3 linked regions of the Homo sapiens genome follow. The protein of the gene in region 3 purifies or fractionates together with the protein of the main gene of each other region. This does not show direct contact. Each region holds a gene or a part of one and is shown on either strand. Other genes may lie near its edges.

The links.
Region 1: the proteins of EDC3 (region 3) and KIF13B purify together in Homo sapiens (affinity purification with mass spectrometry, with the first as the bait; one large-scale study listed by BioGRID). This does not show direct contact.
Region 2: the proteins of EDC3 (region 3) and CBY1 purify together in Homo sapiens (affinity purification with mass spectrometry, with the first as the bait; one large-scale study listed by BioGRID). This does not show direct contact.

Annotation. Positions count from the first base shown.
Region 1 is NC_000008.11:29,067,427-29,071,176, forward strand, and holds part of KIF13B (kinesin-like protein KIF13B), read right to left. Parts: intron 3,341-3,750; coding exon 3,078-3,340; 3' UTR 1-3,077. UniProt on the Homo sapiens protein: Involved in reorganization of the cortical cytoskeleton. Regulates axon formation by promoting the formation of extra axons. May be functionally important for the intracellular trafficking of MAGUKs and associated protein complexes.
Region 2 is NC_000022.11:38,659,525-38,663,174, reverse strand, and holds part of CBY1 (protein chibby homolog 1), read right to left. Parts: intron 1-3,650. UniProt on the Homo sapiens protein: Inhibits the Wnt/Wingless pathway by binding to CTNNB1/beta-catenin and inhibiting beta-catenin-mediated transcriptional activation through competition with TCF/LEF transcription factors.
Region 3 is NC_000015.10:74,654,427-74,658,076, forward strand, and holds part of EDC3 (enhancer of mRNA-decapping protein 3), read right to left. Parts: intron 1,643-3,650; coding exon 1,307-1,642; intron 1-1,306. UniProt on the Homo sapiens protein: Binds single-stranded RNA. Involved in the process of mRNA degradation and in the positive regulation of mRNA decapping. May play a role in spermiogenesis and oogenesis.

The sequences.
Region 1 (3,750 bases), on a different chromosome or scaffold from region 3:
AACTCCCATTTACTGTGTACCAAATCAATATAATCACAGAATCAAAGTCACTTCTTTATATGTGAACTCTTCGCATTTACACGAATCCACACATAGAGAAGCTGTTCCAAGACCCCCCAACACCATTAGTGTCTGCAGCCCACCAGGAAGGCACCACGGACTTTGTGGAGAGAAAGATGCTTTGGGGGTTCAATGGGTCAGTATCTTGGGCAGGAAGCACAGGGTGACTCCCGTCTTGTGTGCGTGCGCACAGCCACCAACACACACTCTCAGGACTTCCCGTTTCACATACAGGGAACTTTTAAGGCAAGAGGAGAAAATGCTAGGAAGTAACGGGGGATCAGAACTCCTCCACCTCTCAGGCTCCAGCAGTCACATTCCCAGCTCCGTTCTCTTGTTGAACCTTGGTAGGCCCAGAAACATCTTCCCCCTCCTCACCTCTGCCCTCCCGCTCCCTCTGGTCAGGCCTGGGTACCCAGGAACCCAGTCACACACCTGCCCCCTGTCCCCTCTGCTGCTGGACGCAGTGCCCGGGGCAGAAGTGAGCCTTCTCACCCTGGAGCCTCAGTCCTTCATAAGGGCCCGAGGGAAGTGGCGGGGTGGGGCCAGGGATGTTCTGGGCACACAATGGGGAGGCAGGGCCCCCAGAAGCATCCCCCACCCCCATCTCTGACAGCGCCGCGTGTGCAGTTACTGCCCTTCCCGGCCTTGGGTGCCATCTGCGGGCCGACCCACACTAAGGTGCCACTCCTGGGGCCTTCCAGGAGCGCATCGGGAGTCCTAAGGCGGGTGGGCGGGCAGGCGTTCTTGGGAGGTGAGTCTGCTGGTCAGGGAGGCAAGAAAAGAAGATAGAAGACGGAGGCCAGCCCGCCCTGGCCCACCACTCTGGAGACCGCACCTCCTGCCTGCCAAGTGCTGGCCCGGGGTCAGCGGGGCTCACTGCCTTGGTGACCACGTCACTGCACATCCCTCTTTCCCAGCCACAAGCTGACATTAGTCCGCACCGAGAAGCAAGAGTGAACAGGGCCTGGGCCCAAATCCACCTGCTCAAGTCAGGAACTCTGGCTCGTTCTACTCCACTGTAAGTCAAACCGATGGTAAAAAGCACGACACACACGTCCCCCAGGACTTTCCCAAGATGGTGCTACAGGAGGCCGCTGCTGGGTGGATGGCTCAGCCACCACGAAGTGCCAGGTCCCACCCACGCTGCCCGTCCGCCACCATTCCCAGAGCGTCCCCACTACACGGCCCAGGCGTTTCCCCTCAGGGCAGCAGCAGTGCTGGCCTCTCACCCAGGCCATAGTGACACCAGCGGACCCAAAAACAAACTTCTCAGTGAAACAGGTTTTAAAAAGAAAGCCGCTGTGCTGGGAAGCGGGTTGAGTTAAAGGGCAAGGCAGAGGTGACAGCTCTTCATCCAGGGACAGGTGCCACAGGGTTCCCTCAAAATCGGCTAAGGACAGGGAGAGCCCTGGAGGAGTGCCTCCCCCCAGGGGCCGGGCCCTCTGCCAGCCCGGCCGCAGCCTTCGTGTCCCTCGCCAACTGGGGAGAGAAAGACAACCTGTCCTCGCAGCCAGGGCTGGGACAGGCCCACCATGGAGACTACTCTGTTGGCGCCTTCAAGTCCCTAGAGAACCAGAGCCTTCCGCAGCGCTTTCTAGATGTTGACTAAATGTGAGAACTAGAAACCAGCTCCAAGGGTGGCTGTGTGAATCTTGACCCAGGACTCCTGTCCCTAGATTGGTGGCCTTCCACACATAGACGCTAACCCCCATCCCACAAACCTGGCACCAAAGGCTCTGGGAGCATAAGTGCCCCAGCCAGGAGGTGGAGGCCACCCCGGAAGCTTCCGGCTGTCCCGCCCACACCATGCACGGTGGGCCTGGGGGCGTGGCTGCTGTGAGGGTCTGGAGACTAACCAGCACACTCCCTGCACCAGCCCAGCCGCCAGGCCCCAGCCCCACACTCTGAGAGTCTGGGAGTTGCCGAGAAGTTAAAATGACCCAAAGACCTTCCTAGAAACCAAAAGTGCACCAAATAAAGTAGCAATGCCTCTTCCTTTGTCACCGACTACAGAAGCACATCATTCTCCCAGGTTTTTGCTCTCATCCAAGTTAAGAGTAAGGCCACTGTGGATCCGCAATAGAGGGATGTGAGGAGGGGGCTTTATCCTCTGCCGTCCCCAGGACCCTCCACCTGGGCAGGAGGCCAGCAGCTCTGCAATGGCCAGAGAGGCTGCAACGTGCAAGGCAGGCCCTGGGCCCCCCCACACAGGCAGACGACGATTGCGGCTCGCAAATGATTTCGGATTTTGAAAAAATAAATATAAATAAATACATTCCAAGCCTTCTGTGAAGGGAATAAACGGCAAACATAAGAGACTTTCCAGGTGTCTAAAGATGCCAAAACATCCACAGAGAAACCGCTAAGAAACCCTGGCAGAGGAGGGATGGGGGGGCTCAGGCCCTCGGCCCCCGTCTGGGGCACCAGGACCATCTGCCAGAGCCCAGGGCCCTCCAGAGGCACTTGTGGAACCTGGGACCAGGGTGGGAGGCTGGGGGGTCCCCCAGAGGCACTTTGCGGGAAACTGGGACCAGGGTGGGAGGCTGGGGGGCTTGCGGAGTGAGCCAGGACATCCTGGGTGGGTGGGGGGGCTTGCCCTCCAGTGGGGAGGAAAGGCACTGGTTACAATTATGGTTTAGGTTAAGACATTAGTGGGGCCACCAGAATGGAAATGATAGAAAGAGCAACATAAGGCCCCAGGCACAGGCACACAGCAAGATCACCAGGCGCTGCACCACCCAGGGTCTCAGTCCTAGCATCCCCCAGCCCCTGCGGGCACCCAGAACCTTCCATCCACCTGAGGAGGCACAGTTGAGGCCCCCACTTTACCCGGGTACAGAAGAAACAAAGCTTCCAGAGGCCCAGGGAGGTCACCAGCCCTGTGTCGTGCAAAAAGCATTCATCGCCCTGCCCCTGGGGAAGGGGCCACCGGGCTCCTGGCTCCTCAGGGCTGTCACTGGCAGGGCTCAAAAGGGGCCGGGCACCCCCAGAAAAGTTCGCCCTAAGGCAGCGGCTCAGCTGGCCCAGGATTTCCGGTTCTCAGGGTTCTTGTGGCTCCTGTCGGCCTTGGCCAGGGCAGCTGTCAGCGAGGCCAGGTTGGTGGCGGAGCCCGAGAGGGTGGCGCTCCGGCGGGCCTCGGGGGCACCCAGCCGGAGTCCTGTGCTGCGCCGCCGCACAGGGCCCGTGGCCCTGCGGACCCGGCTGGGCCTGACCAGCAGCCCGTAGCCAGGGTTACACCTGAAGTACTGCTTCCCGCCGATGGAACCGTCATTCTTACCTGCGGGGGAAGGAGAGGGTGATATGGAGGGCAGCCGAGCTGCAGACGGCCCCCTGCACCTCCCTTACCTCTGCAGAGGCCATGTGCCCACACTGCCACCCCCCCGCACAGGCCCTACACAGCCAGCACTCGGACACTGGCCATTGTCTGGCAGGGACTGGCTAAATGAATGTGGCCAGGGCCTGGGGTGACCGCCTCCCAGGACAGTGAGCAGTGGTGACCAAGGATGCACAGCCCCAGTCCTGCAGCCTCAGGTAGGAGGTGACAGGCCCTGGGGGCCCTGGGGAGTGCCTTGTGGAAGCATAGGTGCAGGCCAGCCACTAAGGCACAACCGGCCCGCCTCGTGCGGGAACAGACCCTTCTCCATCTGGACCCAGGCCTGGGCTGGGTGGCGGGAGAATGGTTCTTTT
Region 2 (3,650 bases), on a different chromosome or scaffold from region 3:
AGAAGTTCTTAATTATAATGAAATCCAATTATTTATTTATTTATTTATTTATTTTGAGATCAAGTCTTACTCTGTCGCCCAGGCTGGAGGGCAGTGATGTGATCTCAGCTGACTGCAACCTCTGCTTCCTGGGTTCAAGCAATTCTCCTGCCTCAGCCTCCTGAGTAGCTGGGATTACAGGCGCCTGCCACCACACCCAACTAATGTTTGTACTTTTAGCAGAGATGGTGTTTCGCCATGTTGGCCAGGCTGGTCTTGAATTCCTGACCTCCCAAAGTGCTGGGATTACAGGCATAAGCCACTGCACCCAGCCCAATTTATTATTATTTCTTAATGATTAGTGCTTGTATTGTATTTTTAAAATGTTTGCCTACCCCAGGCTGGGTATGGTGCCTCATGCCTATAAATCCTAGCACTTTGGGAGGCAGAGGCAGGCAAATAACTTGAGTCCAGGAGTTCAAGACCATCCTGGGCAACATGGCAAACAAAACCCTGTCTCTACCAAAGATACAAAAAATTAGCTGGGCATGGTGGTGTACGCCTGTGGTCCCAGCTATTCAGGAGGCAGAGGTGGGAGGATTGCTTGCGCCCAGGAGCCAGAGGTTGCAGTGAGCTGAGATTATGACACTGCACTCCAGCTTGGGTGACAGAGTGAGATCCTGTCCCCCGCCCCCCAAAAAAAATTGCCTACCCCAAGGTCATGATGATATTTTCTGTTAACTTCTGGTAATATTATTGTTTGCATTTCACATTTGTGACTATAATTCATCTTGAATTAATATTTGTATATGATGTAAAACAGGGGTTAGTGTTCTTTTTTTCCCCATATATCACCCAATTTTTTATTTTATTTATTTATTTATTTTTTTTTTTGAGACAGAGTCTCATTCTGTTGCCCAGGCTAGAGTGCAGTGGCGTGATCTCGGCTCACTGCAGCCTCAACCTCCCAGGTTCAAGCGATTCTCCCACCTCAGCTTCCCAAGTAGCTGAGATCACAGGCACGCGCCACTAGGCCCAGCTAATTTTTGTGTCTTTTGTAGAGACGGGGTTTCGCCATGTTGCCCAGGCTGGTCACGAACTCCTGAGCTCAAGCGACTGGCCCAACTTGGCCTCTCAAAGTGCTGGGATTACAGGCCTGAGCCACCACGCCTGGCCTATATTATTCAATTTTAATTTATATCACGCACACAGCTTACAAAGAATCCTTCTAAGAAGCCATAGACTGAAGAGAACAACAATGACGGCACAAGTGAGCAAAAAGAAAACAGCCGACCTCTCACTGCTCCTCCTGGGCGTAAGGTCTTCCTTCACTACATTATGAAATAAAAGCAGTAACGGGTTAACTGGATCTGACAAGAAATGGGCCAAAAAAGGCAGGAGGAGGGGTTGGTATCTTTTCAAGACTATTTGAAACAAGGTTTTATATCCATTATCATTAAAAGAGAATTCAAAGTATGAATCCATCACAATCAGCAAGATATGTATCCAATGAGAACAGGAAAAAAAACTTCCAGGCTGTTTTCATTAAGGGAGAAATTGATCTCACTAAAATTAATGATAAAAGTTAAGAAGCTTCTTTGGAATGTATGTAAAACATACAATACATAAGTATATGTATATGTAATTTATAAATAAATGAAGGTATTTGGGGTTATGTGCTCATGACAGCTTTCCTGGTAGTTACGTGTTTGAATTAAAAACAATCATACAGTGGCTCACGCCTGTAATCCCAGCACTTTGGGAGGCCAAGGCAGGTGGATCACCTGAGGTCAGAAGTTCGAGACCAGTCTGGCCAACATGGTGAAACCCTGTCTCTACTAAAAATGTACAAAAATTAGCCGGGAGTGGTGGTGCTCACCTGTAATCCCAACTGCCTGGGAGGCTGAGGCACAAGAAACGCTTGAACCTGGGAGGCGGAGGTTGCGGTGAGCCGAGAACACACCACTGCGCTCCAGCCTGGGTGACAGAACGAGACTCTGTCTCAAAAATAAAATAAACTAAAATAAAATCATAAAAATAAAAAGAATCATAGACCAGCAACTTAGGGGATGGCATTTGGGCCTGGGCACAGCACTTTAGAACTTGGACAAACCAGAGTGCTTCCAGCTTGGTAGTGGAGGGGACGGGGTGGGGACCAAGATGCAGAGGGGGGTTGATGCTATGTCACCATCCAAAACACATTGTAAGGCCCTGGCACTGTTTCTGCTGGAGAAGAGAAAGAGGTTAGAAGAGGGAAAAGCATTAATCTTATGTCTGTAATCTTATGTAAAGGACAGAACAAAAATAAAATAGGAATATCCATGAATAAAGTTCTGGAGACTGAGGCAGGAGAATCGCTTGAACCCAGGAGGTGGAGGCTGCGGTGAGGGAGATCGTGTCATTGCGCTCCAGCCTGGGCAACAAGAGTGAAACTCCGTCTCAAAAATAAATAAATAAATAAAGATGAAAATGCTAGGGTTTGGGGTAGTTTCCCAATTTTCCCAAGGTGCATAGCCATGATCAGTTGGCTGAAGGTGTATATGCGTCTGCGTGTGTGTGTGTGTGTGTGTGTATGTACCTGTACACACACATATATGGTATACGTGTATATACATATGGTGTGTGTGTGTCTATATACACATGTATATACTTATCCTTGTATTAGTAACATGTGAGGCACATCATTAAAAGATGCATTTTCGGCCTGGTGTGGTGGCTCATGCCTGTAATCCCAGCACTTTGGGAGGCCGAGGCAGGTGGATCACTTGAGGTCAGGAGTTCAGGACCAGCCTGGCCAACACAGTGAAACCCCGTCTCTACTAAAAACACAAAAATTAGCCAGGCGCGGTGGCATGAGCCTGTAATCCCAGCTACTCGGGGGGCTGAGACAGGAGAATCACTTGAACCTGGGAGGCAGAGGTTGCAGTGAGCCAAGATCACGCCACTGCACTCCAGCCTGGGTGACAGAGCAACACTCCATCTCAAAAAAAAAAAGTTAAAAAAATGCATTTTCACTCATCATATTGGCAAAAATTAAAAAGATGAATAATACCCATGGTTGATGAGGATGTGAAGAAAAAGACACTGTTATTACTGGTGGAATCAGAAGATGCTATAATTCTTTCAAGGGCACTCAAAACTTGGCAAAATTGTCAATGTGTACACTTTTTGGACAGCAACTCTACTTCTAAAATTTTACACTCCAGAAAGACTTGGACATGCTCACACCCAATGTTCTCTATTGTTGATAACAGTAAAAAATAAGAAACAATCCAAACAATTTGGGTGTAGCCAAATAATTTGTGGCACATTCTTTTTTTTTTTTTTTTTTTTTGAGACAGAGTCTCACTCTGTCGCCCGGGCTGGAGTGCAGTGGTGCGATGTCGGCTCACTGCAAGCTCCGCCTCCCAGGTTCACACCATTCTCCCGCCTCAGCCTCCCGAGTAGCTGGGACTACAGGCGCCTGCCACCACACCTGGGCAATTTTTTGTATTTTTAGTAGAGATGGGGTTTCACCGTGTTAGCCAGGATGGTCTCGATCTCCTGACCTTGTGATCTGCCCGCCTTGGCCTCCCAAAGTGCTGGGACGACAGGTGTGAGCCACCGTGCCCGGCCAGCACATTCTTATAATAAAATTGTGGGCCTAAGCCGGGCACGGTGGCTCATGCCTA
Region 3 (3,650 bases):
GGCTGATCTGGAGGAGTACCAGACTTAACAGATGATAACTGCCTTTGAAAGGCTTAAAACCTAGCAATTTAAATTAAACCCGATTCTGAGCTAGGCTGTTTGCCTTTACACAGGTGTTAAAAATCGAAGGACTTCGGCAAGTTACAGTGTCACTGTCACTGCCACTTAAGGAAACCACCTTAATAAACAGGCATGCCTACCAGAATCTGCCAGCAAAAGACTGACACAGTTCAGCAGCTTGTTTTTTTTTTAGCAGTCTTTCTTAGCCTGACAGTTGGCCTATTTTTTTTTTTCACATGGAAAGCACATGCAAGCTACTATACTCAGCGAAACCAAATACAACAGAGTCCTACTATTATCTATAAAAAAAAAGCCATGTCTGGCTTTCCTCCAAATGCAATTAGCTGCGTCCACAGTTCTCCTTATAGCAGCTACCAGCATTCAAGATTTATATTCCTTATATTCCAAACTTCAAACCAAAATAAAAATATTATACTCAATTCCTTCTCTACTTACTAAAATGATTATGACTTCCCCTTTAGCTCTTAGGATCATTCAATAACAATGGTTTTCAAACCATATTCCAAGAGGCCCAGTTAGTAATGTGGTTTGAGGGGAAGGGATGGGACACGGATGTGATGAATTACCTCTCTCACACTGCTTTAATCTGTTTTATATGCCATAGGTTTGAAGAAAAGGTTCTAATGCTAAAAAAAGAAACAATAATCACTGAGGTAATAGAACTAGATTATCATCTACAATGACCTACATAAGGCACTACACTGTTACATGAAATTAGCCAACTTTCAATGTCCTGGGCTAACAGGAGATAAGAACAGCATAGTAAAGAAATGTAATTTATTAAAACTCTATTTTTAGCCAATGATTCCAATCATCCATCTTCAACTGTTTTTTTGCAACAACAAATAATTAGTAAAACAGAGTTGAAGTCTGGTGAAATGTATGGGCAGTAATAGAGAAGCCAAAGTGAAAATAGATCTGAATATTTGAATCTACATAGCAGGCCCTTTGCCTTTAGTTGTTACTCACAGCATACTAAATAAGTGGCAGGCCATATCCTACCAGATACAGGATATACACAGACATCTACAGAAATTACCCCTCCACCATGGCAGAATGCTGTTATTGGCTGCAATCCCCAAGAGACAATAATACCGGGCCAGCCACCAAGCCACTTAAATTAATTCCTAGTGTGAGATTCTGACTCAGAAGCCAGGTCTTTCTGTTTCAAGCATAATAGAAAGGCAACAGCAACCAGCAGGATGTGGGACCTGATGCAACTCACCCGTGCAGAACTCCTTGCTCACGTTGTGGGGCACTATGATCCGTCGATAGACAATGGGCTCGGACTCCAAGATGTTCTCATCATGGCGGTACCGAGTGGGCCTTTCATTTGGGATGCCCCGGGAACGGGTACCACTTCTCCTTTCATAGGTATCAATCTCCTCAAACACAGCTGCCTTGTCAAAAAGAGCCAGGTTCCCTTCAAAATCAAAATCTGTGTCTGGGATCTCCTCAATATCATCCCCGAAGCACTCGTCATCTTTATTCTTCATCTGGCCATTCTTTAAACCACTTTTCTTGGGAGTTGCCTGATTTGGGTGCCTGCTACTAGATGACCCTGGAGAAAAAATAGGGACTAAAGTCAGTGTATCCACAGAAAGCGCTCAGTGAACGTGGAAAATACATTAGTCTTTTGTGGAGAGTGTTACAGGAACCAATGTGAAAATGGTAAAGGTAACTATTGCAAACTCATATTAAGTAGCACAAACAACAAATCTCATGTGCAATAATAGGTTTCAAACATCACCCAATCTGGGCACAGTGGCTCACGCCTATAATCCCACATTGGGAGGCTGAGGCAGGAGGATCGCTTGTGCCTAGGAGTTCAAGGCTGCAGTGAGTGATGATCACGACACTGCACCCCAGCCTGGGCAAAGAGCAAGAATCTGTCTCAAAACACACACACACACACACACACACACACACACACAAACAACAACAAATATTACCCAAGTAACTTGTTAATGAATATGAAATAAGCAGTACTCCTGGAAATCTTAACCAGTTATCCCCTTCATAAGGAAACTGGTAATGACAAAAGTTTTTCTGACAACTTACTATTAGCAAACAAGAGGAAGAGTAAGAATATAGCATGGTGGTTTTGACATAATGACAGAGGCAGGAGGCAGAGAAATTCTAGAGGCGGGTCCCTGGCGAAGCCCCACCTTTGAAGCTGAAAAGGCTGAGACTGTGGCCCAAAGTGAGAACTTATATCCCTGTTTTCCCACTAGAATGTTGTCTTTTCTTAAACCACCCATGGCTCTGCCCCCACCCTATCCTGTGCCTATAAAGACCCCAGACTCAGTCAGCAGAGATGAGAAACAGCTGGATGTTGGAGACTATGGCTGGATGTCAGAGAGAAGTGGCTTGACTTCAGAGGGATAGCTTGACTGTGTAACTATGGAGAAGAATTTGGCTGGAGACAGCCAGACTTAAGGGGAAAATTACCTACCCACCACTGACTGTCCCCTTTTCAGCTCCCCTTCCCACATAAATAAAAATAAAATCACCCACATTTACCATCCTTTAATTCATTCATGTGACCTCATTTTTCCTGGACACTGGACAAAAGCTCAGAAGCCATGAGTGCAGATACAAAAGACTGTCACACTGATCCTTTGCCCTCACTGGCAGAGGGCAGCTGCAGGCCCACTGAGCTGTTAACACTTAAGCCATCTGTGGATGGCAGAGCTAAAAGAGCACCATAACACATCCTCTGGGGCTTCAGGAGTTGTAGACACCCCACCTAGATGCTGCCATATGGCCTGCACAGAGTTCGCTCCTGCTGGTGCCCAGAAGCGCTCATTCTGGCTCCTGCACCGGCTCACATGTGCACTCCCTCCCACAATGGGTAGAACACAGTGGGTCTGAGTGAGTGGAGTTTGATCCCACTGGCACTGAAACAGACAGCCAGGTTCCAGTGCTTGTGCACTCCAGTTCCTGCCTTGTTCTCTCGCACACTCCCTTCTGCAAGGAGTTGAGAGCAGTGCGTGGAGTAAACGGGGCACCCCTGTCATGAGTCCTGTGAATAGGTCAGGGAAGGGAAATATCCTGCTTCAGTTTGAGTCTGAGTGTCTGGCAGTTGTTTAAGAGAGAAATACCCCCAGAGTAAAAGAAGGCCTGGTCTTATAGCCTGAAGCTTGTAGGAAAATACTATTCAGCTAGTCCTTAAATCTATGCTTACCCAGCAAGCAATCTTCTGATTTTTAATTTGGTCTTAGGCTAGATCCCAGCAGCAGGGAATCCCTGGTTTGCTCAAAAAATTCTACATTCTGAGCCAGGTATACACCTACCACTACAAATTGCTATTCTGACTTACAAACCTTTCTTTAGACCTTTCGGTTAACGTGATCTCTTTTCTCAGAATTTTATCTCTTGTGGGTAAGCAGTTTCTGAAACACCAAATAATGACAGGGTCCATACTGAACTGATCCTGTAGAGGCCACACTAATGCACATCCACAACAGAGTAGCCAGCCACACCCTGTCTCTGACACCTTATTTGGCTACTACACATCAGTCAACAACTACTCTAGCAGCCAAGGCAGAAGGTCTCACAGAATTCTC